4 linked regions of the Homo sapiens genome follow. The protein of the gene in region 1 purifies or fractionates together with the protein of each later gene. This does not show direct contact. Each region holds a gene or a part of one and is shown in the gene's direction. Other genes may lie near its edges.

Region 1 (7,023 bases):
ATACATTCATTTATTTTTTCATAAGCTTTTAAGTTAAAATATGGAGTTCTTACTATACACTAGGCACCGTGTAGGCATTGGGGATCAAAGTTTTTAATGTGTAAATTTAAATTTTACAAAAGAGTACTGAGAAAAACATAAAGACGGCCAGTTGGCTAGCCTTCCAGCTAGGCTGTCAAAAAACTATAACACTTCACACAGGTTTTTCTTATATATTTTTGTATTTAAGCCTCATAGATATCATTATTCTCATTTTCATAGGGAATAAATATTAAGTAACTTTATTGATCAATTTGTTTTTGACAAAAAAAAGAACTATAAAATATGACTGTTTTTATTGCTTATAAAGTGCCTTTGATTTTGATTCCTTTTGTGTAAACCTTAATAATTTTCTTTGTCTGTCTTTGAGCATTGCATAAAAAGGCATTGTATAAAGGAATATCTGTCTCCATATTTTACAAAAGAATACTTCGAGAAAACCACTTCAAAGTCAGTCCAAATGTGTAGTGGTACACCTCAAAGCAGCCATCTCAGTTTGTGGGAACCTCCTGTGCATTGTTACTTTTTAATATAAGTGAAAGCTCCTGATAGGCAGACTATGAGAAAATTATCTGGGACAGAAATTGAAGACATCCAGGAAATCTGCAGTGATTGTTTCAGCAATGACTTAAATTTCTACTCTTAGATTTATTTTTTATTTTAATTCAAGCTAGTCTGTTGAAGATTCTGGTCACTTGATCTTACTTTTTATACTCTTTCAACTATGCTGGAATATATTAGATTATGAAATTCATGAAAGATTAATAATCTGGAGCTTTTTTCAGTAGTCTAGGATTTGGAATATGATTCTCATGAAAGGAAATTTTCTTCACGAAAAAAGTTTCACAGAGGAAATAGTACTCAAGCTACACATATTTAATAAATAAAGCTGATACTTGCATTTCTCCCTTGTATGGATAAAAAGTCATTTAATTTTTTTTCATTTTGTTTTAGTCACTGTATATATGCCTTATTTCCTGGGTCCATGGGAAGCATGAGTCTGTTGGGACTTGGGACAAGAAGAAAACAAGACATCTTCACAAGGAAAACCAAGTACTAAAAAAAGTATCCTCCCAACTCTGAAGAGATAGAACACAAACATGGCCGACAGTGGACTTAGGGAACCTCAAGAGGGTAAGACTGATTTGTCTGGCACTGAGGTTGCTGCTGTAGGAAACCAGGGGTGTGCAGAGAGAGAAAATCTCTGATGACTAAAATCTGAGGTTTTGAAGTAAAAAAGCTAATTCAGTGGGTTCATTTGTTTTGATTATACTTATTCTTTCAAATTTACTGAATTTTACTATAATGCGAGACCCTAATTATAATATAAGGAAGATAAATGTTTTAGAGACTCCAATAGTAAGGACTTATAGTAATGGAAAAATACAATGCTTCTTTAAAAAATGATGGTAGACAAATCTTTAGAGTTATATATATCCTGTGATGTGCTATATTTAGAAGGTATCTTTCTTCTTCCTCTTCTTCTCCTTTTTTTTTTTTTTATGTTACCCAGGCTGGAGTGCAGTGGCGTGATCTCAGCTCACTGCAACCTCCGCCTCCCGGGCTCGAGTGATTCTCATGCTTCAGCCTCCAGAATAGCTGAGATTACAGGCGCCTGCCACCACACCCAGTGAATTTTTGTATTTTTAGTAGAGACGGGGTTTCACCATGTTGCCAGGCTGGTCTTGAACTCCTGACCTCAGGTGATTCACCTGCCTTGGCCTCCCAAAGTGCTGGGATTACATGCATGAGCCACCACATCTGGCCATTCTTACTTTTATTAAAGAAACAAAGTCTTTTGGAATTTCCCACGTGCTGGGTTTTGCTGATTATATTCTTGAGGCATAATTTAATGTATTCCTGTATCCCTATATTTCTTGGAAACTGGTTGCTCTAGAAACTTACCAGATTTAAGTTTAGTTGTTTGGCAAAAATACTTCCCAAGTGGTCTAGAGTACTTCTTACTGCATTGTATTAGAAAGTAAATGATATCTGTTTGGGTTTCCCTGTTTTCATGATGTGAAGATTGGTCGCTGGGTTCAGCAGTTGTCAGTCTGGCTCATCCACTATAAAAGTCCCTATCAGCCTTTTGCATAAGGTTTTGCTACCATTGATGAGCATTGCCTTTCATTAGGGAAGAGGATATATTTAATATAGCCAAAAGTTTGTTCTGTCATATAATTTGTTTTATATTAGTGTCATTTTATATTTATTAACATGATAAGATTTTTTTTGTTGTTGTTTTAATTGCCTTTAGTGGGAGCCAAGAGAAATAATGTTTAGGAAGTGTCTTGTAAACCATGAAAATCTATGTAAATATTATTATTAAACAGGGACCTTGTTAAAATATAAATTTATGGGGAATTTTTTCCAATAAAAATTATAAACTTTTATCTCAATAGACTCTCAAAAGGATTTGGAAAATGATCCATCAGTAAATTCTCAGGCGCAGGAGACCACAATCATAGCAAGTAATGCTGAAGAAGCTGAGATCCTACACTCTGCCTGTGGTCTTAGCAAAGACCACCAAGAGGTAGAGACAGAAGGTCCAGAAAGTGCAGATACAGGTGATAAATCAGAAAGTCCAGATGAAGCAAATGTGGGGAAACATCCAAAGGATAAAACAGAAGATGAGAACAAGCAGAGTTTTCTGGATGGCGGAAAAGGGCATCACCTCCCTTCAGAAAATCTGGGTAAAGAACCCTTGGATCCAGATCCCAGCCATTCTCCAAGTGACAAGGTAGGAAGAGCAGATGCACACTTAGGGAGCAGCTCTGTGGCCCTCCCTAAGGAAGCGAGTGACGGAACTGGAGCATCTCAGGAACCACCTACTACAGACTCCCAGGAGGCCCAGAGTCCTGGTCATTCCAGTGCAGGGCAAGAGGGTGAGGATACACTGAGGAGGCGACTGCTGGCCCCAGGTAAGAGAACCCCCTGAACTACTCTCCTGTTTTGTACTGCTCTGTTAACTGAGAACACAGCAGAAGTCAGAGGCCTTCTTTCCAGAGAACTTTTGTCATCTTTCATAGGAGTAAGGCCTTTGGGCCTTGCCCAAGCTCACACCAAGCCATGACTGAGTTGATTTTAGAATGAGGTTTCTCATCTAGGCTAGCTCATTCCACTATATTAAGTTGCTTCCTACACATAAACTGCATTTCTAAGCATGTTTTTATTAACTGTTTATATTAATGTGATATGACAAAAAGGGGCATGACTTTTAAAAAATTCGCTTCTGGTTTTTTATTTCTTATGAGAATATTTCGACTTACAATTTTTAAAATCTTTTACTTTTTGGGAAACTAAATGTTACATAAATCAAGAGATGGGTATATTTAAAAATGAGCATTAATGGGACAGTATCCTTAACTCAGTCATGTTTCAGTTTTATAGGACTTTGAGTAAGACAGTTAGTTTCTCTATACGTGGTTTTTTCTGCCTATATGTTAAGAGGAACAAGCATGTCTTCCCTTATGAAGCTAAGCGTTGCAGTGTGCTAAATCCTTAACTGGAACTGGAGGTGTGAATTCTAGTTGTGGCCCTACCACTTGCTGACTTGGGAGACCTTGGGAAAATCTTCCCTTCCTGGTGCTTCAATTTCCTGTTTGTAAAATGAAGAAGTTGGACAAGATGATATCCAAACATTCTTCTAACTTTCACCTTCTGTGATTGTCTGTGTGGGTTTGTATTTTATAAGCACTCTGAAGAGCTCAGTCTGAAATGCCCATTTGCCAGTGCAAAAGAATATAAAATATAAGATGTTCTGTTCATCAGGGACTTCAGCAAGGGCTAGTAATTCATGTTTCACTGCAAATCAATGACTAATCTCAAATATATGTTTTATTTATTAATCATTAGAATAATCTGTAACTTCAGTGAAGGCAAGGACTGTGTCCTCTCATTCATTGTGTATCTCTGGCACCTGGCACATAGAAACACCTTTATGAATTTTGTCAAATGAATGAATGTGATCTGTAAGGACCATGACCTGCGTCAGAATTTCACTGTTATAAACTAGGTGCAATTACTTACACCTCTAGTCCCAGTTACTTGGGAAGCTGAGTTGGGAGGATTGCTTGAGCCCAGGAGTTCAAGCCTGCAGTGTGCTATGATCACCCCTGTGAATAGCCACTGCATTCTAGCTAGCCTGGGCAATCTAGTGAGATCCCATCTCTTAAAAAAAAATTCACTGTTAGGCAGGTTCACTGTGAGTAGAAAAAATATTGTTTAAAAAAATCTAGTTTAGGCCAAGGGTGGTGGCTCACTCCTGTGATCCTAGCACTTTGGGAGGCCAAGGCTGGTGGATCACTTGAGGCCAGGAAGACCAGCCTGGGCAACATGGCAAAAACCCATCTCTACAGAAAACACAAAAACAGCTGCATGCACCTATAGTCCTCAGGAGGCTGAGGTGGGAGGATTGCTTGAGCCCAGGAGGTTGAAGCTGTGGTGAGCCGAAATTTCAGCACTACACTCCAGCCTTGTTGACAGAGTGAGACCCTGTCTTTAAAAAAAAAAATGCAGTTTATGTATGGAAAGCAATTTAATATAGTTGAATGAGGTTATCTATACTCTAAGAGATGAGAAACTTTGTTTTCATCTCAACTTAGCTATATCTCTTTTTTTTTGTTTTTTTGAGATGGAGTCTCACTCTTTTGCCCAGGCCGGACTGCAGTGGCGCTGTCTCGGCTCACTGCAAGCTCCGCCTCCCGGATTCACGCCATTCTCCTGCCTCAGCCTCCCGAGTAGCTGGGACTACAGGCACCCGCCACCGTGCCCAACTAATTTTTTTTTTTTGTATTTTTAGTAGAGACGGGATTTCACCGTATTAGCCAGGATGGTCTCGATCTCCTGACCTTGTGATCCGCCCGCCTCGGCCTCCCAAAGTGCTGGGATTACAGGCGTGAGCCACTGCGCCCAGCCAGCTACATCTCTTTATGTGACCTTGGGCAAGATCTTTAATATCCCTGGACCTTTTTTCATGATAGGTTAAGTAATGGGGCCGGAGTAGGTGTCCATTATAGATCCTTTCAGTTCTTAGATTCTATGATATGATATTTTAAGAACCTACTCTTTGGGGTGATAGGAACAATCCTTTATAAGTGAAGATGATCCTACTCATCTATGCTAATAGAAGTACCTGGCTGGGGTTAAGCACAAATTTAGATTCTAGTGTGATTTAGCTTAGAGTGCTAAAAATTGTTGCCCTTCTTTTCACCCACATATTTTAAGCTTGGCATGCCCTCCCTACATCTGGATTTTTACATATTTCGTGAATTTTCTTCACCTTATATTCCTTGCTTTGTATATCTCCTTCACTAAGAGTTTCAAATTTGCTTCTGTAAGCTATTTTGCAACTGTACACTAATCTCTCCTATCTTAGAACTTAGTGCCTCTGTTATTTTTATATTCGGGGTCTTGAGGAACCATGTGAAACTCGAACACTGGAATTAGAGCACAATTACCCTGTGAAGTTGAATCTTGTGTACAGCCAACATTTCTTAAATCCCTTCTTGATTTTATACATTTTGCTGAATTACATTTTAGGTAAGTTTGGCCGCACTATTTAAATGTCTTTGTCTTTGATATAAGAGGCAGTAAGGAATTGTGAATATAGCAACATTATCCTTGAATGAATTTCACAGTATTTCATTTTATCCTTCTAAGTAGAATAAAAGTAATAGTCTTAAAGAAAAGACAGGAAAAATGTTAACTTTGGTTTTTTTTTTTTTTTTTTCTGAGATGGAGTCTTGCTCTGTCCCCCAGGCTGGAGTGCAGTGGCACGATGTCGGCTCACTGCAACCTCCACCTCCCAGGTTCAAGCGATTCTCCTGCCTCAGCCTCCCACGTAGCTGGGATTACAGGCGCCCGCCATCATGCCCGATAATTTTTGTATTTTTAGTAGAGACAGGGTTTCACCTTGTTGGCCATGCTGGTCTCAAACTCCTGACCCCAAGTGAGCCACCTGTTTCAGCCTCCCAAAGTGCTGGGATTACAGGCATGAGCCACCGTACCTGGCCAAGGTATAGAAAGCCTTTTAGTCAAATCATTCTTTGGTTTGGTGAGAGATATAAAGGTATACATACTGTCATTAGTGTACTGCCTAAAAATAATATTGATTCTTTTCCTCTCCAGAGGCTGGAAGTCATCCACAACAAACACAAAAATTGGAAGAAATTAAAGAGAATGCACAGGACACCATGAGACAGATTAATAAAAAGGGTTTTTGGAGCTATGGTGAGAACAAACCTGGTTTTACTGCAGTGTTGATTCACTTTCAGAAATCCTCAGTGAAAATGCCTAGAAAACTAGCAGATTTAAACAGTTTTAACATTGTGTTTATATATACTTATTTAATGATTGGTAGTGAGACATAGTAAAATAGTACACTAGAGTTTTAGGGATTTTTCCCTTACGGGTGCTGGCTGATATTTTGCTGTGCTTAACAAAATGGAATTTCTCACAATAGGAAAGGCTTTTCCTAAACAAGAAACAAAAACTGCCTTTCTAATTAGAGAATATTAATTTTTCAAGTGCACTTTAAAGTTATGACTCCTAAAAAAATGGTCGGCTATAGGTAGTAGGTGCATTGAGAAGATGAAAAAAAATCTTGATCACTCATGTCTAAATTACATCATTAGTTATAATAACAAATACATAGACTCAGCTTTTACCTTTTATTTTTAAAAATTTTTTACCGAGTACTTAACTCTTCCACGTAGCTTTTATCTTTTAACAGATATATCTTCAAATAATTAAATCTGAGAAGAGATTAGAGAAAAGGTACTTCTGGTGGATTGAAAGTTTAAACAATTTATGCAAAAGAAACTTATTGCTCCTAGTAAAACCTGCTGGTATCTCTGCCTCATTTCAGTTTACCACAGGCTTTGTTTCTGGCTCGTGTTCTCTGTAATTTTCTATTCCTTTTTCATTCTTTTGACAGGCCCTGTGATTCTTGTCGTCCTGGTTGTGGCTGTTGTGGCAAGTTCT
Region 2 (7,508 bases), on another chromosome or scaffold:
CGCTACATTAGCCAGGCTGGTCTCAAACTCCTGACCTCAAGTGATCCTCCTGCCTCAACCTTAAATAGTTGGATCAAATAACCAGGTTCAATTTGATGATAAATAGCTCAGAATAGAAACTTCACTGCTATTTCCAGATGTCATTTTAAAATATTTTAGAATACCTGATTTCTCCATGACCTATCCATGCTTTTCTAAGGTTCCAAACTAAAATGCAGAATCTTGAGTTATTCCAGAACATAGATTTAAAATTTGATCAGAAAATAACCTTCATTTAAGAAATGAGGGGTCAGGCATGGTGGCTCACGCCTGTAATCCCAGCACTTTGGGAGGCCGAGTTGGGTGGATTGCTTGAGCCCAGCCTATTTATTTACTATCCTATTATGAGCTTGAGACCAGCCAGGGCAACATAGCAAAACTCCATCTCTACAAAAAATATAAAAATTAGCCAGGTGTGGTGGTGCACACCTATAGTCCCAGCTACTTGGGAGGCTAAGGTGGGAGGATCGCTTGAGCCTGGGAGGTGGAGGTTGCAGTGAACCAAGATTGTGTCACTGCACTCCAGGCTGGGCGACAGAGTGAGACATCTTCTCAATTAAAAAAAAAAAAAGGTTGGGGGGGTATTGCGTCCCTCTTGTGTGGCACCCTCCTTCCTCTCCCCGCTGTAGCCATAGCACATTGCACATAAACTGCGTCTTCATACTTACCCAAGTATTGTATCTGCCTGGGTGAGTCTGTTCCTGTCACTAAAATGTGAACTCCCTGGACATAGAGACCTTGTCTTTCATCTCTGTATCTGTCCCCAGTACCTGGCATAGTAACTGGAACATGCCTTTTTTTTTTTTTTTTTTTTTTTTTTTTTTTTTTGAGACGGAGTCTTGCTTTGTTGCCCAGGCTGGTGTGATCTTGGCAGTGGCATGATCTTGGCTCACTGCAGCCTCTGCCTCCCAAGTTCAAGTGGATTCTCCTGCCTCAGTCTCCTGAGTAGCTGGGACTACAGGCGTGCGCCACCATGCCTGGCTAATTTTTTTTGTATTTTTAGTAGAGACAGGGTTTCAGCATGTTGGTCAGGCTGGTCTTGAACTCCTGACCTCGTGATCCACCCACCTCGGCCTCCCACAGTGCTGGGATTACAGGCGTGAGCCACCACGCCTGGCCACCAATTTTTATTATATGATTTTATAACTAAAATTTCATGTCTAGCAATGAAATTCTTCTTCTCTCTTTTTTGTTTATTTATCTTCCTTTTAGTCTTTCTTTCTCCTCGGATCTTTCCCCTTCTATCTGTCTCAGTTCCTTCATTTTCCTTAGCTCTCCATTTCTCCCAGCATCTGCTACTAGTCTAGTCTCCTGGCTCTTAACCTTTTTGAGACACAGACTCCTTTAATAAAGTGATGAAGAAAGTTATCTCCCCAGAAGAATACACACAGAGAACACAGAATATTTTGCATATTATTTCAAAGGTAAAGAATGCCAAGAAGCCAGGGGCAGTAGTTCATGCCTGTGATCCCAGTGCTTTGGGAGGCTGAGGTGGAAGAATCACTTGAGCCCAGGAGTTCGAGGCTGGCCTGGGCAACATGGTGAGACCTCCTCTCTACAAAAAAATTTTAAAATTAGCCAGGTGTGCTGGCACGTGCCTGTAGTCCCAGCTACTCAGGAGGCTGAGGTGGGTGGATTGCTTGAGCTCAGGAGGTGAAGGCTGCAGTGAGCCATGATTGTGCCACTGCACTTCAGCCTGGGTGACAGAATGAGACCCTAGCTCTAAAAAACAAAGGATGCCAAGTATCTAAACTTTGAGCTCCTTGAGGACAAAAACTAGGCGTTTTTCATCCTATATGCCCAGTATTTAGTTGATGTTTCTTGAGTGTATATAAGTGTGCACATGCCCAGAAACATGTAAATATTAGTACATGTTGTAGAAAAGCTGTTGTCAGGAAGATATTTGTACACTCTGGCTTTCCACTATGATAGTCACCAGGCACATGTGGGTACTGAGCACTGGAAATGTGGATTGTCCAGATTGGAATGTACTAATTGTAAAATACGCACTGGATTGCACAGGCTTGGGGCAGTACAAACAAAAGAATGAAGATATCTCATTAATAGTTTTTATGATTATTACACATTAAAATGATCATATCTTGGATATATTGAGTTAAAATATATTATTAAATTAATTTTACCTCTTTATTGTTACTTTTCTAAAAGCAGCTACTAGAAAATTTTAAATTATACATGTAACTGCTCATAGAAGGTTGGTATCTGGGTTCATTCATTAGTGGACATTCATAAACATAGTAATTTTCTTTAATTTCATGGATTCGTTGAACTAAAGATCCCATAGGTCACCGCCTTCCCTGTCCCTCCTCTACCACCAAAAATTAATGAGAACAAATGGGAAGAATTTACTCTGCTTTTCAAGGTACTCTGATACAGATTTTTATCTACTGTCATAAGTATACCTAGAACAAAAGCACTGTTGACTCAAGTAGTTTCACTAATGAAAAGGAAGCAGCAGAATGACTAATGTAAATTGGAGGAGACTCTTTTATTTGGAATGCTTTGGTTCTTCCACTGTGGAACAGGTGTGGCTGCTGTTGAAACAGCAGAGTCATACTAGGCATATCTGACATGTGAGGAACCGGAGCATTGCTCAGGGGCCCCTGCCTTCCAATGAATGGATGTAGGATCCATCATACATCAGATTGCTCCTTTCCAATACAAACTCTGATGCAGAAATGCACTTGGTGTATTTGCTTTTTCTTACTTTCTGGTTTAGGGCAGAAATAATATTTTGGCTTAGAGACTTTTGTCCTGAACTATGACATAATAGGATGAGAATATCGTGTCAAAAATAGCCTTACAAGGTCCTTTTTGGCATTAAGACTTCTGGAGTGAGTTTGCAGTGGATTATTGAGAATAATTCTGTTCATTAGCAGCTAGCCATCTTTGATGAGTGCTGACTTCTCTCCTTTCAGCACAGAGCAGGAAATGCCTGCCTCCCATGACTCTGGGTTGGAGTGAAGGGGAATGCATACCAGCCACCCTCTTGCAGAGGTGGGGCAGGTGCTGGCACAGAGCCTCAGGTTAGGCCGAGGGGATGCAATCTCAGATCAGCAGCCAGCAGTGTTTGTAAACAACAGGAGGGAGATTGTGCTGGTGATGTCCAACTCACACCAATGAAGATCAACCGGTTTGTGCTTTGGGCAGCAGGCTGCAGATGGACAGTGCCTCCTGAGGGCATCGCCATGTTTTAGGGATCCATGTTGCAGGATACCTGTCTGCAAGAGAGAGTCAAGGAGGGCTTTTTAAGCCCCTGGGGTTCAGGCCTGGCATCTGGGTGTTAAGTAGAGTGAATCTCCTGAAGTCCAAACTAACATATGACATTTTAAAATGAGGAAAACAAATGGCTCTGAAAAGGTCTATAGGATTATAGGTAAGTGGTTAATACGGAAGATGTTATAAAGGTCTCAGGAGGAGATGGGGTGATCCAGGGTTGGTTGAAGTCGTTGAAATGGAATTACCCTGTCTTTTACCTGTCTGTGGGAAAAAAAAAAAAAGAGGAAAATGACATCTCCCAAAGATGCTTGGAGATTTGATTGATGTTTGTAAAGTGCTTTGATATCTTTCATAGAGTGTTCAATAAGAGCAAAATATGTCATCAGAACTTAGTCTAAAGCAAACTAGTCCCAAACCGTCTTGAGTAGATACTAAGCGGTTTTGTGTCTTTGTTATAAGTTGTACTTATATTTTCGAGAGAAAGTTTTTCATGTTCTGATTTTCTTTTAAGTGTCAGCTGTATGTTTGGGGTCTTTACCTGTTAACTTGAGTTCCAACATGCTTTGTAGATGGTCAGTCACCTACAGAGGACAATTTTTCTAGCCAAGGAGTTAAATCCACCTTAAAATGCTTCTTGCCAAGGACAATGCCTTTGCAAATATTTGAGATGTTTATTCTCAGTTGTGATTTATTACTGAATCTGTGTCTTCATAGCGACTCCTTGGGAGGTGCAGGAGGAGGCAGAGCCAGAAAGCAAGTCCCTGCAATCAGTTCATTATAGAGAAAGAAAAAGCTTTTATTTCAGGATTCTGGTGGATAGACTTACTGATATGTATATTCTGTGTCTATTTAATTTCACGTAGTGCTGCATCTAATCACGCTGTTTAAATAATCGGACAGAATGTCCTTTTGCTTTGCTTTTGCTTGTGAAGAGCACACAGCACTGCCACCTTGTTGCCAAAGTTTGGTCTGATTTGAATGTGCTTAAAAATCAAGTGAATGCCTGTTGGGAAAAAGCTTACTCCTTCTCTTTGTCAGTACTTGCAAAAACAACTTAAAAGAAGTTAGTATTATTGGACTGAATTCAGTAATTAGCATAATCATGATGCTATGTATTGTTCACCAGGGCACGCCCCTTGGCCGCATTTCCCATTAAGAGGACACCGATGTTGTCCTAGTGAATAAATCCCGGCACACATGATGCAAATCAGCGTGTTCCTGCCTGCTGCTTGGCTGCAGTTAATTTTAGCCGGGGTTAGTTCTATGAGTTGTAAAAGTAGAAGTTAGCAAGCTGAAATGTGACTTCTCGGCCTAATGTGGTAGGATATCTATTTTAGACTTCAGATTGTGTTTGTGATCAGGAGAGCAGTCTTCTGAAGAATTGTGGCTCAGTTTTCTTGGAAACTACTTGTAAGTACTGGGTGGAATTTTAAGACTTCTCTTTGTTCTTTTCTCCTTAAATCTTCCTAATGTTACCGTCATAGTAATGTTTATCTCTTGGGAAAACTGGAAGCTTTCAGGTTGGTACGTTAGAGAAAGCTAAGAGAGGTGGCAAAAGGTTTTTCTTTAAATGTCTCCTACTGCAATAAATCTGCCTTATTCAATTTGCCCAAGAAAAAGTTTTCGATTCTTACTTATTTTTGCAAAAGCAATCTGTAGATTATTATTTTATGTTAAAATATTTGATTAATGGATATGGTTTCTGTAAATACAGAAACATTGTATTGTGTCATTGAGCTTTGTTTTCTACTATGGTAACCTAATTCTTGAGAAAAAAATGTTGAAAGTTAATTCCTGTTATACTCTGTGCTACAAGTTTATTTTGTAGAAATAATGGAGTGTCAAATGTAATTTTCTTGAATGTATAGATGGACAGTTTTTTATCCTTTTAAGGGGGATTTTGTGCTTAAAAAATAAACCCATATATGCCTAAAGAGAAGCACTTTAAAAAATTAATTTAGGAAGAAGGTTTTAGAGAATAATTTAAAGCATCCTCTTTTAGACTGAGTTAGTTATCAAAAGTAACCAAAGGCCATGGGATTCTGTAACCTTAACTGCAGTTCATCTAACACATTATTACCAACTTAAATTTGTACTGAAGAAAACAAAAGATTTTGATATTGAATATTTTAAATTAAATTTGAATCATCTTGCTTATTTAGAAGTGTGTTTTCAATGTGGACTGACCTCAAGCCAAACAGTTTGCTTACAGCAGAGAACCAGGCAGGAATTTCTTTATCAATTAGCAAGTAAATGTATCAGCTTTAGGAATATTGTTATTAATAAAACAGTTCTCCTAGGCGATAGGATAGGTGCTCACCAGCTATCTATGCCTGTCATCTCTAGAGCAAGGAAGGAGGCAGGTCCACAGTTAGTATTGTGAAAGCCATTTTCCCATTTTGAAAAGATTTAGTTAAAGACTTCTTTGTTATTATGTATTGTCTGATTTTAAATGCAAATGACATAAAGTGTCAACAATGAAAGGAAATACTTCAGTGTTCCATTTAGTAGGAAAAGAGTGTAAGAAAGGAAAGTAGTACTGAGTTCTTGGGCTATTTTTAGAAAGAAACTTACTTCATACTTAGTTTTTATTGAGCTGAAGAGAAATTTGCTGCCCAGATGAATTATAATGATAACAGAAGCCTCTAATGTCATCTTCAGCAGTAAAAGGGGTTTTGCTCCGGTAATCCTTCATAATATATATTTTTATCCAAAAAATTCTGACTTATTGCTATTACTTCTTACTTCTAATTGTTAATAAGGCACCATCAGAATCTCAGTGGAGCATTTTTAAAGGTACACTGTAGTTGGGTATTAGTTTTCACACCAGTATTCACTTGACCTATTGTAGTTCTTAGTCCTGCAAAAGAGAAAAGCTGATTCGAATTTATCCATTGTTTAATTTCACAGACGTTTCTGTAGGTTTTTCTACTACTAGGAAGCATGTGCTTTATGATGAGTTGCTAAAATGCGCATAAACACTTGAGGAGTGTTCGTTTTAATGATTTACGTGCTGTGAGAGAGTGGCAGCGGTGAGTGAGAGCGGAGAAGGTTTTCATTATATAAGTGTTAGTGCCGGAATTCCTCGTGTTTGCCGGTGCTGCGATTCTCTTCGCTGCTTCTACCCCGTGTGCCTGGTGAAATGATGCTGGCTGTGACTGGTTATGACCTTGGGCGACAAATCATGATGAGCTCTATGCAGAGTCACACACTGGGGGTCCAGGTGCGGAGAAACAGGGCAGCTTTGTGGCCGCAGGAGGAGTCCAGGAGCCGAGCCCGCCTGCCCTTGCCCTGCTGTTCCCACGCCGCAGGTGACCGCACGTCTCCCCTGCAGTCCTGTTGGAGCCACTCTGTCCAGCTGCCCGTGCTCTCATCCTACTCCTCCACGTCTTAAAATAGTTACAGACCCAGAGGCTCTGACAGAATCGCTGCCGGTTGCAGATTTATTTCACTGTTACTTTCTGCCTAGAGGGATAGCCTTCTGCTCAGAAGCTTTGAGGGGTTTCTCAGGGACGCAGAGAGGAACCTTTTCTCTGGGACCTCTTCCCTCACATGAGGTTTTAATGGGTCTCTTGCCTGCATGGCTAAATGGGAACTGCGCTATGTAACAGGTTGCCTTTCGGCTTGGAGCCCGGATGCTCAGTGATCACATCCCTAGAATGTTCTCTCTCTAAAGGAAATCTTGTCGGAAGAGGCTGTGTTATGTGAGTTCCAGCTGTTCATCTAAAGTGGAAGGAGCAGTGAGCAGGAGGGATGCCTTCAGCTTCCGTCCGTCTTAAAAACAAGTGTAACATAATGGGATATGGCCCTCAGGAGGAAGGCTGATTTCTCGGGCATACGGGGTACTGCTGTCATTATTTAGCATGTATTAAGCACCCCACAGCACATGCGGTGCACAAGGAAAGCATAGTTCCAACCCACATGCTACAACAAGGCAGGACACAGAAACTGGGCCCCCTGACATTCAGTAACTACACTGGCAGAAAAAAAAATGTGAAAATGAAGAAAAGGGAAACAAGATGAGTGGGGTGGGTTGAGGATACTTCAGCATTCAGCTCCTCTGAGCTTTTGCCAAAGACGATTAGGACAGACAGCTGTGCCACCTGGGCTGTGCCTTCCCTTTCTCCTCCATAGCTGGGAAGTGATGGGGACAAGTGACAAGACTGACCCCAGAAGCCTTGCCCCCCACTCTCAGTCCTCTGTTGCAATCCTCCTACAAAGAGGAGAAG
Region 3 (7,023 bases), on another chromosome or scaffold:
TATTGGTATGTACAAACTATGTGCTTCTCATAATCTCACATTTACCTTTTTCAGGAATAGGATGAGTGATAATCCACCCAGAATGGAAGTGTGTCCTTACTGTAAGAAGCCATTTAAACGATTAAAATCCCACTTGCCATACTGTAAGATGATAGGACCAACCATACCTACTGATCAAAAAGTTTATCAGTCCAAGCCAGCTACACTCCCACGTGCTAAAAAGATGAAAGGACCAATCAAAGATTTAATTAAAGCTAAAGGGAAAGAGTTAGAGACAGAGAATGAAGAAAGAAATTCTAAGTTGGTGGTGGACAAACCAGAACAGACAGTGAAGACCTTTCCACTGCCAGCTGTTGGTTTGGAAAGAGCAGCTACTACAAAGGCAGATAAAGACATCAAGAATCCAATCCAACCATCCTTCAAAATGTTAAAAAATACTAAACCAATGACTACTTTCCAAGAAGAAACCAAGGCTCAGTTTTACGCATCAGAGAAAACCTCTCCTAAAAGAGAACTTGCCAAAGATTTGCCTAAATCAGGAGAAAGTCGATGTAATCCTTCAGAAGCTGGAGCGTCTTTACTGGTTGGCTCAATAGAACCTTCTTTGTCAAATCAAGATAGAAAATATTCCTCAACTCTACCTAATGATGTACAAACTACCTCTGGTGATCTCAAATTGGACAAAATTGATCCCCAAAGACAGGAACTTCTAGTAAAATTACTAGATGTGCCTACTGGTGATTGTCATATTTCTCCAAAGAATGTCAGTGATGGGGTTAAAAGGGTAAGAACATTATTAAGCAATGAGAGAGATTCCAAAGGCAGGGATCACCTCTCAGGAGTCCCTACTGATGTTACAGTTACTGAGACTCCAGAAAAGAACACAGAATCCCTCATTTTAAGCCTTAAAATGAGCTCATTAGGTAAAATCCAAGTCATGGAGAAACAAGAGAAAGGACTTACCCTGGGAGTAGAGACGTGTGGGAGCAAAGGAAATGCAGAGAAAAGTATGTCTGCAACAGAAAAGCAGGAACGGACTGTCATGAGCCATGGCTGTGAGAACTTCAACACCAGGGATTCAGTCACAGGAAAGGAGTCTCAAGGGGAAAGACCACATTTAAGTTTGTTCATTCCGAGGGAGACGACTTACCAGTTTCATTCTGTATCGCAGTCAAGTAGTCAAAGTCTTGCCTCTCTAGCTACAACATTTCTTCAAGAAAAGAAAGCAGAAGCCCAGAATCATCATTGTGTCCCTGATGTAAAGGCATTAATGGAGAGTCCCGAGGGACAGTTATCTCTGGAGCCCAAATCTGATAGTCAGTTCCAAGCATCACACACTGGGTGCCAGAGCCCTTTATGTTCAGCCCAGCGTCACACTCCTCAGAGCCCCTTCACCAATCATGCTGCAGCTGCTGGCAGGAAGACTCTTCGCAGCTGCATGGGGCTGGAGTGGTTTCCAGAGCTCTATCCTGGTTACCTTGGACTAGGGGTGTTGCCAGGGAAGCCTCAGTGTTGGAATGCAATGACCCAGAAGCCACAACTTATCAGTCCCCAGGGGGAAAGACTCTCACAAGGTAAACAAGCTTATTTTCAATTGCCATCTGTCCCATCCAAAATGCTCTCTCTGCCTTTTGAATTTATAAGGGTCAAAATACTAACATTTTCAGTCATTTAGTTTATTTTCACCTAGGCATGCCAGTAGACTGCATATAAAGTTGTCCTGAAAGAGGCTGGGTGTAGTGGCTCACACCTGTAATCTAAGCACTTTGGGAGGCTGAGGCCAAGGCAGGTGGATCACTTGAATTCAGGAGTTAAGACCAGCCTGGGCAACATGGTGAAACCCCATCTCTACTAAGGATACAAAAAATTAGCTGGGTGTGGTGGCGCACCTGTAGTCCCAGCTATTTGAGAGGCTAAAGTGGGAGATCACCTGATCCCGGAAAATCAGGGCTGCAGTGAGCCGAGTATGTGCCACTTCACTGCAGCCTGGGCGACGGGAATGAGACCCTGTCTCAAAAAAAAAAAATTGTCCTGAAAACATTACTTCTTGCTTCAGTGGTCAGTAGTGGTGGTTTATCCCTCTCTTTTTCTCTCCCCCAAGAGTTGAGGGTTACACTAGGGCAGGCTGGCGATACTGAAAGCAGTTGAGTTTCTGCCTTGAGAAGAGGCATGTCCAGTAGAAACTGGATGGGTAAACAGACTGGAGAAAAATATAAAGACTTGAAATTCAGCTAGATAGAATAAGCACTGTGTTCAGAATCCAGTCAGGACCAGGTTGTACAAGAAATAGGTTCTAAGTTTACAGGACAAGAAATAGGTTCTAGGTTTCAGGCAAATGCAACATCTAGGAATTTAGAGTAGCAAAGTAGGATGCAGGTGGTAGGACACAGGTAAAACTAGCCAGGTAAGACGGGCAGGCAAGGCAGATAAGTGGAAGTGGAGGCTCAGGAAATGAACAGTGAAGATCAAGGACCAGAAACGGAGGATGTGGCCAAAAACAAAAGAAAAAATGTAGGCCACAGAGACTAGGACCCAAGAATAAAACCAGTGATTGAGCCTGGAAACAGGAGAGATGAGGCGAGAAGGGCTTGGGGCGAAAGACTGAACGTTGAAACTCACCTTGATTATGAATCAAACTTCAGAAGCTTCCTAGAGGCTCCTTTTGCTGATGGCTGGAATCGGTTAACAGGAGGGAAGACCAAGGCCCAAGGAGCCAGGAAGTTCCTGACAGTCATTTGAAATATCTTTGCTTTTCTCTGCTGAATCTCATCTTTAGTTATGAGACCACCTCTCTAGTTAAAATACATAAAGTTTCTTAAGCTTTTCTAGGGGCAGGGTGATTGTAAAGTAGCATACCTGTCGTTTGTAAAGTAGCATACCTGTCGTGTGTAGTGGCCATTGGTGCTTTCATGCTTATTTTGACAGGAGACCTGTAACAACTCAGAATAGGTTTGCAAGAGAAAAACTGGTATTATCTCTTCCTAAAGGGAAATCATTTTCTTCTCTGGTAGATTTTGCAAATGATCTCATATTCACTAAACCTCTATTTGCCTGGTCTCAAAATGGATGTGTACTAAAAGCAGAACATTGCTAGCCCAAAGCTACATTTTCTTTAACTACCTTCTATAAACAGGCCTAACGTCTAGACCTTTTTGCACAAAGTTGTAGTCACAAAGTCAAGCCCCTTCTCCGTAATAAACACATTTAATTATATTAACATTTGTGTTGCTTTGTGGTTTTCAGAGTGCCTCCATCTGTATTTTTTTTATTTTGGGCACAAGGTGGACAGAGAGGTGGGCAGAGTGAATTTATCCTATTTTGTGGATGATGAAACAGGCACAGAGAGCATAAGTGATTTGTCCAAGTTTGTGTTGCCAATAAATAGTAGAGCTGCAAGGAGAACCTAGTTTCCTGAGGCCTAGTTTAATCTTTTCCACTAAACCATGTTGTAGAAAATACACCATAACTAAAACCATGTTTGTTATAGTGCCATACTTTTCTGTGTGTGTGTGTGTTTTGTTTTTTTGTTTGTTTGTTTTTTGAGACAGAGTTTTGCTCATTGCCCAGGTTGGAGTGCAGTGGTGTGATCTTGGCTCACCTCTGCCTCCTGGGTTCAAGCGATTCTCCTGCCTCAGCCTCCCAAGTAGCTGGGATACAGGTATGCGCCACCACGCCCGGCTAATTTTGTATTTTTAGTAGAGATGGGGTTTCTCCGTGTTGGTCAGGCTGGTCTTGAACTCGTGACCTCAGGTGATCTGCCCGCCTCAACCTCCCAAAGTGCTGGGATTACAGGTGTGAACCACCGTGTCCAGCCTTCTGTGTTTTTCAGTTGCAGATGCACACACTCCCCCCATGATAAATCTCTCTACCAAATTGAAGGACTTGTGTATTTTCTGTACTACATTTTATAGTGCTTAGGAGTGTCCTTGATACACACTTTTCATTTTAGAGGAAAAAGTGAGGGACCTGACGTTTATCTGTGATGACTATGACTATCGTTATGCTAGATACATTATGTCATTTAATCCTCATAACAGCTCTGAGTGACACCACTGTCCCACCCTCTTATTCCTCTTGAGGAATCTGAGCTTCAGACATCTTTTTTTTTTTTTCTTGAGACAGAGTCTTGCTCTGTCTCCCAGGCTGGAGTGCAATGGCACAATCACGGCTCACTGCAACCTCCACCTCCCAGGTTCAAGCGATTCTCCTGCTTCAGGCTCCAGAGTAGCTGGGATTACAGGTGCCTGCCACCACGCCCAGCTAATTTTTTTTTTTTTTAAGTAGAGATGGGGTTTTGCCATGTTGGCCAGGCTGGTCTCGAACTCCTGACCTCAGGTGATCCTCCCGCCTTGGCCTCCCAAAGTGCTGGGATTACAGGTGTGAGCCACCAGGCCTGGCCTGAGCTTCAGACATTAAGTGACTTCCCTATGTTCATGCAGTAAGTGACAGAATCAGGATTCAAACCCAGGTTCGTCTGACTCTACTAACTATTCCAAACAGTGAACCTCAAGTTGAGTTTAAAGACCACAGATAGAAGAGTCAGGTGAACCTGGAGGTATTAACTACTAACTCTCCCAAACAGTAAGCCTCAAGTAGAGTTTAAAGACCACAGATAGAAGTCAATACCTTGTTTGATATGTTATTGATACATTTCACTGTTAGCTCCTAAGAATACAATAATAAGATACAGTAACTTAAAACATTAAATTACCAAGGTTATGAGACAGGATATAGGAGGGAAAATAGAATTTTTTCTTCAGTAACAAGTTCCTTCCAAATAGTGGTGAGAAACTATTTTAATCCCTTTTATTGCTCATAGTCTGTAACTAATAAATGTTGTACTTAGTTTGGGACTTCTACATCAAGACAGTAAATAAGGTGTAATCATCATAGGGCCTCTACTTCTATTATAAACTGAAAAACTATTGAAGTTGGATCCAGGATCAGTGTTCAGACTTTGATGTTACCACCAAATGAACACAAGATACTAGAGGAGAGAGACCCTAGGATCAGGTCAAGCCCTGATCCCTCCATTGGCCAAGGACTTCAAGGCCATATCAATCTATAGGGATTAAAAGATGGTGCCATTGGCTCCTTAAAAAGCTTTGTAATTTCACCAGGCAATGACTGTCTCCAATGACTGCAAATTAGAGTTTTATTGGAATCTTTGCACAAGAGAATGGGCTATACCTTTTCTCACTCAGGCAAGACCTTTGATAGGTCATTTGCCCTTCTCAGGAAGCCAACTCATTCCTTTGGTACTTAAAAGGCAGGGCCAGTGAGCTAACAGTTACTGAATTAACTGCAGGTCAGGACAGTAGGCTCACCTGACTGGAGAAAGCAGGGCAAGGTCAGGGAGCCACGTGATCCTGACACTGCTGACAACATGGTTGCAATTTTCAGGAAGTTGTCTCTTTACACCGTTTTCCTCAAATTTTTTCCAAGATGAATGGGTTTTTTTTTTAAGAGACTAACCTTCACCTTGCAAGAGAATTATCTTCTGTGCAATTTCTTGGAAGCCAGCATGATTCTTTTCATTGTTCTTTAATGATCATTTGGATATTTTTACATCCACAGCAACTTTTACCACACTTGCTAAACCTGTTGTCGGTGTTTAATTTCTTCTTTATCTTGATGAACCAAACCAAGACTAGAGAACTATCAGTAGTAGAGATTACCTGTCATAAAACATGGAGAAAACCATGTACAGGAGAAATGTGATTAAGGAGCATAAGCCCTCTTTTTTTTGTTTTTGAGGCAGAGTCTTGCTCTGTTGCCCAGGCTGGAGTGCAGTGTAGCGATCTCTGCTCACTGCAAGCTCCGCCTCCTGGGTTCACGCCATTCTCCTGCCTCAGTCTCCCGTGTAGCTGGGACTACAAGCGCCCGCCACCACGCCCGGCTAATTTTTTCTGTTTTTTAGTAGAGACGGGGTTTTACAGTGTTAGCCAGGATGGTCTCAATCTCCTGACGTCGTGATCCACCCACCTCAGCCTCCCAAAGTGCTGGGATTACAGGCGTGAGCCACCGCGCCCGGCCTGCATAAGCCCTCTTTTCTGGTTCTGCTTAAGTTATTCATGCACTGAACATAAATAGGAAATGTTTGCTGGCCAATAATAGCGATAGGGTGATAGAACAGGCATGTTGACTGTGGGCAAGTCACAATCATAAAAGGAGAAAGTCACGCTTTTAGCTGACATGTTTAGCAGATGATAGAATATGTAAAAGAGGCCAGGCGCAGTGGTTCATGCCTATAATCCCAGCAGTTTGGGAGGCTGGGGCGGGCAGAACACATGAGGTCAGGAGTTCAAGACCAGCCTGGCCAAAGTGGCGAAACCCCGTCTCTACTAAATAACAAAAATTAGCCTGGCGTGATGGCGTGTGCCTGTAATCCCAGCTACTCGGGAGGCTGAGGCAGGAGAATCACTCGAACCCAGGAGGTAGAGGTTGCAGTGAGCCAAGATCATGCCACTGCACTCCAGCCTGGGCGAGAGAGTGAGACTGTGTCAAAAACAAAAAGATGATGTAAGAGACTCACTTCATGAAGCACATGCGCATCAATCACCTGGCCAGGGTACTCAGCAGACCAAAAAACAAGTAGACGCCCTGATTTTCAGGGGTCCCTTGGCCTTTTGAAAAACATTTTTTCAACCTGTAATTGATTTGACTTTCAACACTTAGCTGCAGTCCAATGCAGAAATCTTTAATGCACCTGTTTAGAATATGCTCTTCCTGAGGCTTAGCCGTGGATCCTTCGGCACTGGATGTTAGGGAAGGGGGTACGTTTCGGTAAACAATGACAGTGACTTCTGTTTGGAACCATAGTTTCTTTGTTGGAACGAAGCTCAACTCATATAAGGAGTTTGGAACCCCCTGCCGGACTTACAACCTCCAACTTCTCTCTAATGAGGCTCTTGGGAGCTGTACAAAAAGGTGAGGCTGGAGTTTGACTGTTGTCTTCTGTTGCAGGTTCTGGGCATTTGGAAAAGTTTCTCTTCGGGCTGTTAAGCAAGGCTAAAGAGGAGA
Region 4 (7,510 bases), on another chromosome or scaffold:
CCCAGCACGCCCCTCTCCACTCCTTTCCCTTCGGGTCCAATGTCACCTCCCCTAGGGCCTTCTCCAGCCCTCCCACATAAAGCAGGTCTCACCTCATCCTAGTTCACAGCCCACTGTGCTTTCTTTTAGGATGCTTATCACCACCTGTAGGCTTTGTGGTTCCCCTTCTGCCTGGGTCCACTCTGGAATCTCAGCTGCCTCTGTCTCACCAGGGCTCTCACTCCCTGGGGCCACGCTCGGGGCTGGCATGCAGCAGATGTCCAATAAGTATTTCTTGAACAAATGAATGTCATTCTGTAGGCTTGTGAATCATGTAAGCAGCATTTTCTCCCTCAACTTAAATCCACTGTATTAGGCTGTTCTTGTGTTGCTATAAAGGAATACCTGAGACTGGGTAATTTATACAGAAAAGAGATATATTTGGCTCACAGTTCTGTGGGCTGTACAAGCATGGCTCTGGCATCTGCTCAGTTTCTGATGAGGCCTCAGGGAGCTTTTACTTATGGTGGAAAGCGAAGTGGGAGCAAGAGAAAGAGGGGGAGGTGCCACATACTTTCAAAGGCCAGATCTCCCCAGTACTCAGTCACTATTGGGGGGACAGCACCAAGCCATGAGGGGTCTGTCACCATGACCCAGACACCTCCCACCAGGTCCCACCTCCAACATTGGGAGTCATATTTCAACATGAGATTTTGAAGGAACAAATATCCAAATTTTATCACCAACAGAGGGTATGTATCTAGGCTTGCATTTTGATAACAGGTCCTCTCTCTGCATTCTGAGTCAGAGGCAACTAATTTAAAAATCCATTCACCCACATTGACGATTAAATTTCTACTCTTACAGATTCCATTTGAAAAATATCCTATGCCTTGTGCTCTTCTTTGCCCTTTAGCTGTGTTTTGTACATTTGTATTCTATTTTCCCTGTGACATGGGCATTTTGATCATTAATGATTTCACTTCACCAGAAGAACATTATTCTTTTTATTTCATTGCTGAGAATGTTTTTGTCCATAGAGAGATATTTTCATTATGGGCCACATGCAATTTCTGAGTAGTTATTTCCTAATATGAAGTGTATTTTATAGGTGGTCAGAATGTTATAACATATTAGAGAGCTTATGTAGAGTTTGGGATAGTGTATATTACTTGGGAGTTATTCTTGCCCGGGCTGCTTTTTCTGGGAGTGTTGTATCTATTCTGAGAAGTCCTTGGAATGAATTGGTGGTGCTTGGTGTGATTGAACTGTTGCTGGTGTTAGTAACAGATGCAGCACATTGACTGTCAAACCTACCCCAATCTTTCCCTGCTCATCTGTGTGCATCTTACTTTCCTAGACAACAGAGCCGCTGAGTACACCCCAACACAGAGGAGCCAGCGCTCACCGAGAGATTTGCCAAGTGGAGTCCTTTTGAGACATCCAAATTTCACTGTCTTCAACTTATTAATGTGAAACAAAGAATAACGTATATGTGTGTGTAAACACGAATAGTAACAGCTTATATTTGTAAACAATGTGCCGTGCGCCCAGCACTACATTAAGCAGTCTCCATGCAGCACCTCCATTAATCCTGGGGAGCACTGTACCCACTTCAAGGTGAGAACACTGGTACTGAGTGGCCCTGCTTTATGTCACCCAGCAGGTGAGTGGTGGGTCTGGCATTCAAAGCTGGGCAGCCTGATTTTAGAACCTACCACACTGTCTTTATACATAGATGCATGTCCACGTATATATACCCACACACATCACGCACATATGTATCATCTACACATGCACGCACCCAACGCGTGCAAACGCTTGGGGAAAACCTCTGGTAGAGTATAATTCACTGTGAACTATGGAATCTGGGAAAGGGTAGGAACTTAGGATCGATGCTTACTTTTTACTCTACACATTTCTCTAATCATTTTAATCCTTTGAAACAAATGTGTTATCTCTGTACTAAAAAAAAATAAAAACCCAAGTTATTGATTTTGCTGTATGTGTTCCCACTGGAAAGGCTTATTGAATAATTGAATGTTATGAATGAATAGCTCATTTTTTTTTCTTTTGATCCAGAGGCCTTTAGAAGAGCAAGTAACAAAAACTGGTGGAAAAAAAGCACACATTCAACAGGAAGCAACATCTAGAGACCTTTCTGCCTTCCAGGATACAAAAAGAAAACAGTTCATAAACAACTTACATCTAAACCAGTAATGTTGTCTCCCTGGCTCATAGGAGCTGAAGAAGAATTCCAGTTACTGTAGTAAGAATATAAGGTAATGTGTTCTTGTTTTTTTTTTCTTTTTTTTTTTAACCACTTTGTTTAAACATTCTGACCTCTGTTAATTCCTCTCTAGGATGTGGACTGGTTTGAGGATGCTTGAGGCATGACTATAGCAAGTACTGCGCATACATATGTGGACATCGTAAGACACACTCTCTGCTTCCCCAGGCGAAATCTGTAATGCTTTGTTTATTCATGTTCTATTCTGCGTTTCCATGGCACTTTGTTCTTTGTGGTTTTTAGGGTATCTTTCTCCCTCTCTGCTCAGTGAACTGAGCTGCCTGGACAGGCCTTGAGTTTTCTTATTCGATTGTTTTTTGTGTGTGTATGTTTTGCCTTAGCTCCCTCACTAGTATAGTCAAGGAGCTTTTCATGCTTTGAGCCATTTGTGGCATTTCAGGAATTACCTTCATAGCTTTTGTCCATTTTCTACTGGCTTGTCTTTTTCAATGTTTTTATAGGCATTTTTTAAAAAACACAGTGTGGATGTCATTTGGGATAGCAGTACTAATAGTAGCTAAAACTTACTGAAAGCTACTGTGTGCCAGGCAGTCTGCTGAGCACTTTACATGCTGCCTTTCATTTTTACACTCATTTAGGAAACTGAGTCACAGAGAGGCGAGATAACTTGCCAGAGATTCAAGCACACTCCAGACACATCCCTACACCAATCAGACCTCCTAGCCACCCAGAAACTCTCCTCTGCTCGGAGGCTTCTCTGCTTCCTCCACCTGCCCCTTCGCCTCACTGCCTCCTTTCAAAATCTGCGGCATGTATTTTAGGGATACTCGTATCCATTTTCAGGAATTCCATGATCTACACACAGATGACACCAAAATCGGAACAGCAATGTCCACCCTTCTCCCGAGCCCTAGGTCGGTGCCTCTGTCCACCTGTGTCTCCTGAAACTTCAACACAGACTTCAAATGGAGTGGCAGAAAACCAGATTCCTTAGGGAAAGGAAGGTCTCCCAGACGGCAGGAGCGGCAGGCCTTAGGGGCAGCCGCAGGGGCTCGGGAGTCTGAACATACCCGGTTTGAATTCAGACTCTGGCACGCCCCATGCGATCATAACATAGTGCTGCACGTCTCAAGCCACCTATAAAAACGGGGACAATAACAATATCTGCCTCGGGGTTAATGGTGAGGACTGACTGTGTGTGTCTCGCTCAGGACCAGGAGCAACAAATGTTGGCTTCTTCCCCGGCAAAGACCCGCGCTTTCTCCTGGGCTCCGGGTTCCCGGGGTGGGGGTGGGCGCAGTCCCGAGGGCCCCAGGCAGTGGCGCAGTGGTTAGACCCCAGCCTCTGGAGTCGGCCTCGGTTCAGATTCTGGTTCTACCCTTCTCCTCTGTGGCGAACCAACCCTCCGAGCTCTAGTTTACTCGTGTGAAATGGACTAGCCAAAATTGGGATTTTTTTTTTTTTTTAGGATTAGATGTGTCGGTCCATAGACGTTGCTGGCCACATAGTTAAGTGGTGCGTTCACTCACTGGGCATTGATGGAGCGCCTACTACGTGCCAGGCCTGTTTTACGCGCCGGGGGCCCAGAGGCGCCCAGGTCAGACAAAGTGTAAACGATTCCGACCAGAGCCCTTCAATCTGCATTCCGCTTCGCAGGAAACTCTCCTCCTTTTATGATTTTCAGCCGGACTGCCTTCCCTGTTGTTAGTTTGTAACTTTCGCTCCGGCCCCCGCAGCCTCGCGCCTGCCTTCCCTCCACTGTCCTCAGCCAAGGTGTAGTAAAGCGTCTCCGAACGCGGCGCGACCCTCGCCCACGCCCGCTCGCGGGGGGACCGCACCGCCCCAGGGGTCCTCGCTAGGGGTTCCCGGAGAAGGGGTGGGAGATGGGGGTGCGGGGGGGCACAGGAGCGCGGGCCAGCACCCAGACCTGCTCGGTACCGGGGACCCAGACCCGAGGATGCCGGGCGGCCAAGGCCCCGCTACCCTGGCCGGCTCCGGGCGGAGGAAGAAGAGGAGGCGCCCAGACTGGATACCCGCCTGGACCCGGAGCCGCGGCACCACCCCCAGCCCGCCCCACGCTCGCCAGCCTCAGACGGCCGCGCCCCGCCCCGCCCCTCTCCCGAAGCCCCGCCCCGGCGCGGGACCACCCCCTCCGCGGCCTCAGCTCCGGTCCTGGCCCCGCCCCCCGCGCCCCCGCCCCCGCCCCCGCCCCCGCCCCCGCCCAGGCGCGGGACCACCCTCCGCCCGCCGAGGCGGGGGCCCAGCGCGCCCGGCACTCTCGGCGGTCCGGGCCCCTCGCCACTACCGCCGCCGCCGCCGCCGTGAGTCCCGCGGAGCCGCGCGCGCCCCCGGCTGGGCCGAGCCGCTGGCCGACGAGCGGAGCCTCAGGAGCCGGCGGGGACGCCATGCGAGCCAGGTAGGCAGGCGGCGGCGGGGAGCGCCTCGGGCGGCAGGGCCCTGGGGGCCGGCGGGGGCGCGGGGTCGTGCTCGGGGGCTTTGCACTCCCTTGCGGGCGCAGATCGTGCCGCGGGCGCCGATCGTGCCACCGCCGCCTGAGTTCGGGGCTGCGCGGGTGCCTGGGCGTGGGGCGGCTTCGGGGAAGCCTCGCGCGCCCCTCGCCGCTCCCCCGGGCGCTCGGGTCTCCCTGGTGCTGGTGGGCAGGGACCCGGCCCGGGGTTCCGGGCGCCGAGCCGCAGCCCTCCGCGTGCGCTCGGGCCGCCCCCCAACCCCGGCTCTGGCCACTTCCCGGCGGGCGGCCCTGCGGGGTGGCCTCCCTGGGCAACCGGACGCGTCCTCGGGCGCAAATCGGGGGGCGCGCTCGGCTCACGGGGGCCGTGGGGGCCACGGGAGGGCGTGGAGGGGTCGGGGCGCCCCCCTCGAGCGGCGCTGGGGAGGAGGGAAGGACGCGCGGTCTCCGGTTAAACTTGTTGGTGACAATGCATATTTCAACTTCTTCGGAGATCCCTCCTGTGAGGATGAAATTGAAAACTCCGGTTTCTGGCTTGGCGATCGGGTGACCGAGCAGCCGCGAGGTGACAGCGCCGGCGGCCCGCGGGCGGGGACCGGCTGGGATAGAGGCGCGTTGTTCTCTGAGCGATGTTTACCGAGAAGCCCGCTCCGCGGCACGGGCGGGTGTCAGTTGGGACCCCAACCCTGGGTCCCGCGGCTCCTAGCCCGGGGCCTGCGGTGTAGACGGGGGTTGGGGACAGGCCCAGCTGGCCCTGACCGGGTGTCGGGCGCCCAGAGATGCCGCGCGGGAGGAGCCGCGGGAGAGCCGCCGGACTCAGCGAGCAGAGGGTCGTGGAGCCTGATGGATCGATGAGATCTGAAAAAGAACACTGTGCGAGATTGTATTCCTGCTTATTCTTTCCAAGTTAGTAGGCAGATTGGAACTATAGAATTTATCCGTGATAATAATAAAGTTCGCATAACTTTTGTTCTGATTACAGAAACAATGTATGCTCAGGACAGAAAGCTAGAGATAAAGAGAAATATAAACAGCAAACAGGAAACCATCCCCAATCCCACATTTTTTACCAGCCTTGTCACAGCCTGGCAGATTTGAACATTAAGTTAGAACTGGAGCCATTCTTGCCTAAACCAGAGAATCCCTGAATGCAGCCGCCCCTTCTCACCCTTGTGACCGTCTCTGAGCTCCAAAGTTTGGGTTTTTTCCTTGCTCCCTACCCGGGCAGAATCTCTGCTGGCCACGAGTCCCCTTCCCAGTGGGCTGGGGGCTTTCCTTGAGATCCGTGGCCCAGATGAAATGATGGGAGAGGCCTGGATCCTCACCGCCCTCTGTGGTTTTGGTTCCTTGCCTTGTAAAAATGAAGGTAATGATTCTCAATCTGCTTCTCAAGCCACCATAAAAATTAATGGGTGGTTTGCAGAGCGTTTTGACATCCGTGGATGGACAGCGGCTGTACTTTAAGGCGCTGGGGAACATTCTACTGTTCCTCATTGCAGTGGTCATGCAGTGTAATAGGCTGCCTCTCACCTGGCCGTCCTGCCCAGGAAACAGACTCCAGGAATGTCCAGTGGAGCCCTGAGGACAATATTCCTGGTTCCTTGCTCAGTGCCCTCGGGACTCGGCCAAATCCCTCAGAGTGGGAAGCTTGGGAAGAGGCAGCGCTCTCCAATCCCCCTCCTCCACCTCTGCTTTCTGCTTGTAGGCGGATTTCTTAAAGTAAGGGGGCAGTGATATTTAGGCGGGACCCCAGATTGCCCACTGCCTGATGTTTGTGGGTCTGTGGAATGCCCGGGCCGTGCTTATCCAAAAGAACAGTTAGTTCTGGGAGGACGCATAAACTGAACAAACCTGGCTTCCTAGAGATTTGTATGGCTCACTTGTTTACTAAATGAACAATGACCGGCTGCGGAGAAGCCCAGGACACTTCTGTGAGCTTTATTATTATTTTTTTCCTGTTGTCCCAAGACTACATTTTAGTGATCTTATAAAACAATAAATAAGAACCCATGCCATTTGTTAATTCTGGGTACCAAAGGCCCAGGTGGGGAGAGGTACTTCACAGCATGCCTTTTGTCCCCAAGCACCCATGCCACCCCCACAACAACAAAGTAATCAGGGTAGAAGATCCTCTTTCTGTAACCGTCTGTCGTTTGATAGTTTCATTTTTTAAATTGTCCTTTCCACCAGCACGTGGATCTGATCAGGGTCTGTCTAGTTGCAGATCACAGCTCAAGAGGGGGTTTTGGAAAGACCCAGAAAGTGGGCTGAAAAAAATGCTGATAAAGTATCCTTCACCGGGTGCCTTGTCTGTTCATGTATTGTGCTCTTACTTTTCTCTGTGGAGGGAGGACCTTCCTGGCTTTTCTCCCTTGCTCTTGTTTGCTAATCCGGCAGCCTGGAATTATTTCCCTCTGGGCTGCTTGAATAGACTTTCTTCTTATTCTAATGCTGGATTCTAGTCTGATCATAAGATATGCGAATGGTGAATGTGGTTTACGCCCTTGAATCCTGGGAGGTGTTCCTGGTTTTAAATCCTGGGATCCTGGCCAGTTAAGAGCCCCTGGCTCCCCTGAAATTGCGTGGGAGGTGTGTGTGCTTTCTTTTCCTGGGGAGCTTCTTACAGAGCCCTTGACCCAAACAAGGTTGAGAGCTCCAGAGTGCGGCCCTGGCAGACCTCGTCCCTGGACCCTGGCTCCAGGCAGACCTCCCAGTTCCAGCCTCGTTTCAGGTACCAGCCTTGTTTTGACCGAGTAGGAGCTGCTGTTTACAACTGGCCAGCCATGTGGATTTCCCTTAGCTTTATTATTTTC

The links.
Region 2: the proteins of TOR1AIP2 (region 1) and SLC20A2 purify together in Homo sapiens (affinity purification with mass spectrometry; 2 studies listed by BioGRID and IntAct, with this or other methods). This does not show direct contact.
Region 3: the proteins of TOR1AIP2 (region 1) and MTNAP1 purify together in Homo sapiens (affinity purification with mass spectrometry; 2 studies listed by BioGRID and IntAct, with this or other methods). This does not show direct contact.
Region 4: the proteins of TOR1AIP2 (region 1) and SH3BP4 purify together in Homo sapiens (affinity purification with mass spectrometry; 2 studies listed by BioGRID and IntAct, with this or other methods). This does not show direct contact.

Annotation. Positions count from the first base shown.
Region 1 is NC_000001.11:179,846,782-179,853,804, reverse strand, and holds part of TOR1AIP2 (torsin-1A-interacting protein 2), read left to right. Parts: intron 1-993; 5' UTR 994-1,139; coding exon 1,140-1,173; intron 1,174-2,441; coding exon 2,442-2,960; intron 2,961-4,930; exon of another isoform or gene 4,931-5,580; intron 5,581-6,168; coding exon 6,169-6,270; intron 6,271-6,976; coding exon 6,977-7,023. UniProt on the Homo sapiens protein: Required for endoplasmic reticulum integrity. Regulates the distribution of TOR1A between the endoplasmic reticulum and the nuclear envelope as well as induces TOR1A, TOR1B and TOR3A ATPase activity.
Region 2 is NC_000008.11:42,498,212-42,505,719, reverse strand, and holds the start of SLC20A2 (sodium-dependent phosphate transporter 2), read left to right. Parts: upstream 1-4,488; 5' UTR 4,489-4,689; intron 4,690-7,508. UniProt on the Homo sapiens protein: Sodium-phosphate symporter which preferentially transports the monovalent form of phosphate with a stoichiometry of two sodium ions per phosphate ion.
Region 3 is NC_000017.11:73,235,422-73,242,444, forward strand, and holds part of MTNAP1 (mitochondrial nucleoid-associated protein 1), read left to right. Parts: intron 1-54; 5' UTR 55-61; coding exon 62-1,574; coding exon of another isoform or gene 1,575-1,675; exon of another isoform or gene 1,676-3,217; intron 3,218-6,679; exon of another isoform or gene 6,680-6,822; coding exon 6,823-6,930; exon of another isoform or gene 6,931-7,001; coding exon of another isoform or gene 7,002-7,011; intron 7,012-7,023. Other genes in the region: CPSF4L (putative cleavage and polyadenylation specificity factor subunit 4-like protein), read right to left, coding at 7,002-7,011. UniProt on the Homo sapiens protein: Critical regulator of mitochondrial DNA (mtDNA) abundance. Binds dsDNA throughout the mitochondrial genome without sequence specificity and controls mtDNA copy number by promoting its replication.
Region 4 is NC_000002.12:234,947,525-234,955,034, forward strand, and holds the start of SH3BP4 (SH3 domain-binding protein 4), read left to right. Parts: upstream 1-4,492; 5' UTR 4,493-4,646; intron 4,647-5,190; exon of another isoform or gene 5,191-7,510. UniProt on the Homo sapiens protein: May function in transferrin receptor internalization at the plasma membrane through a cargo-specific control of clathrin-mediated endocytosis.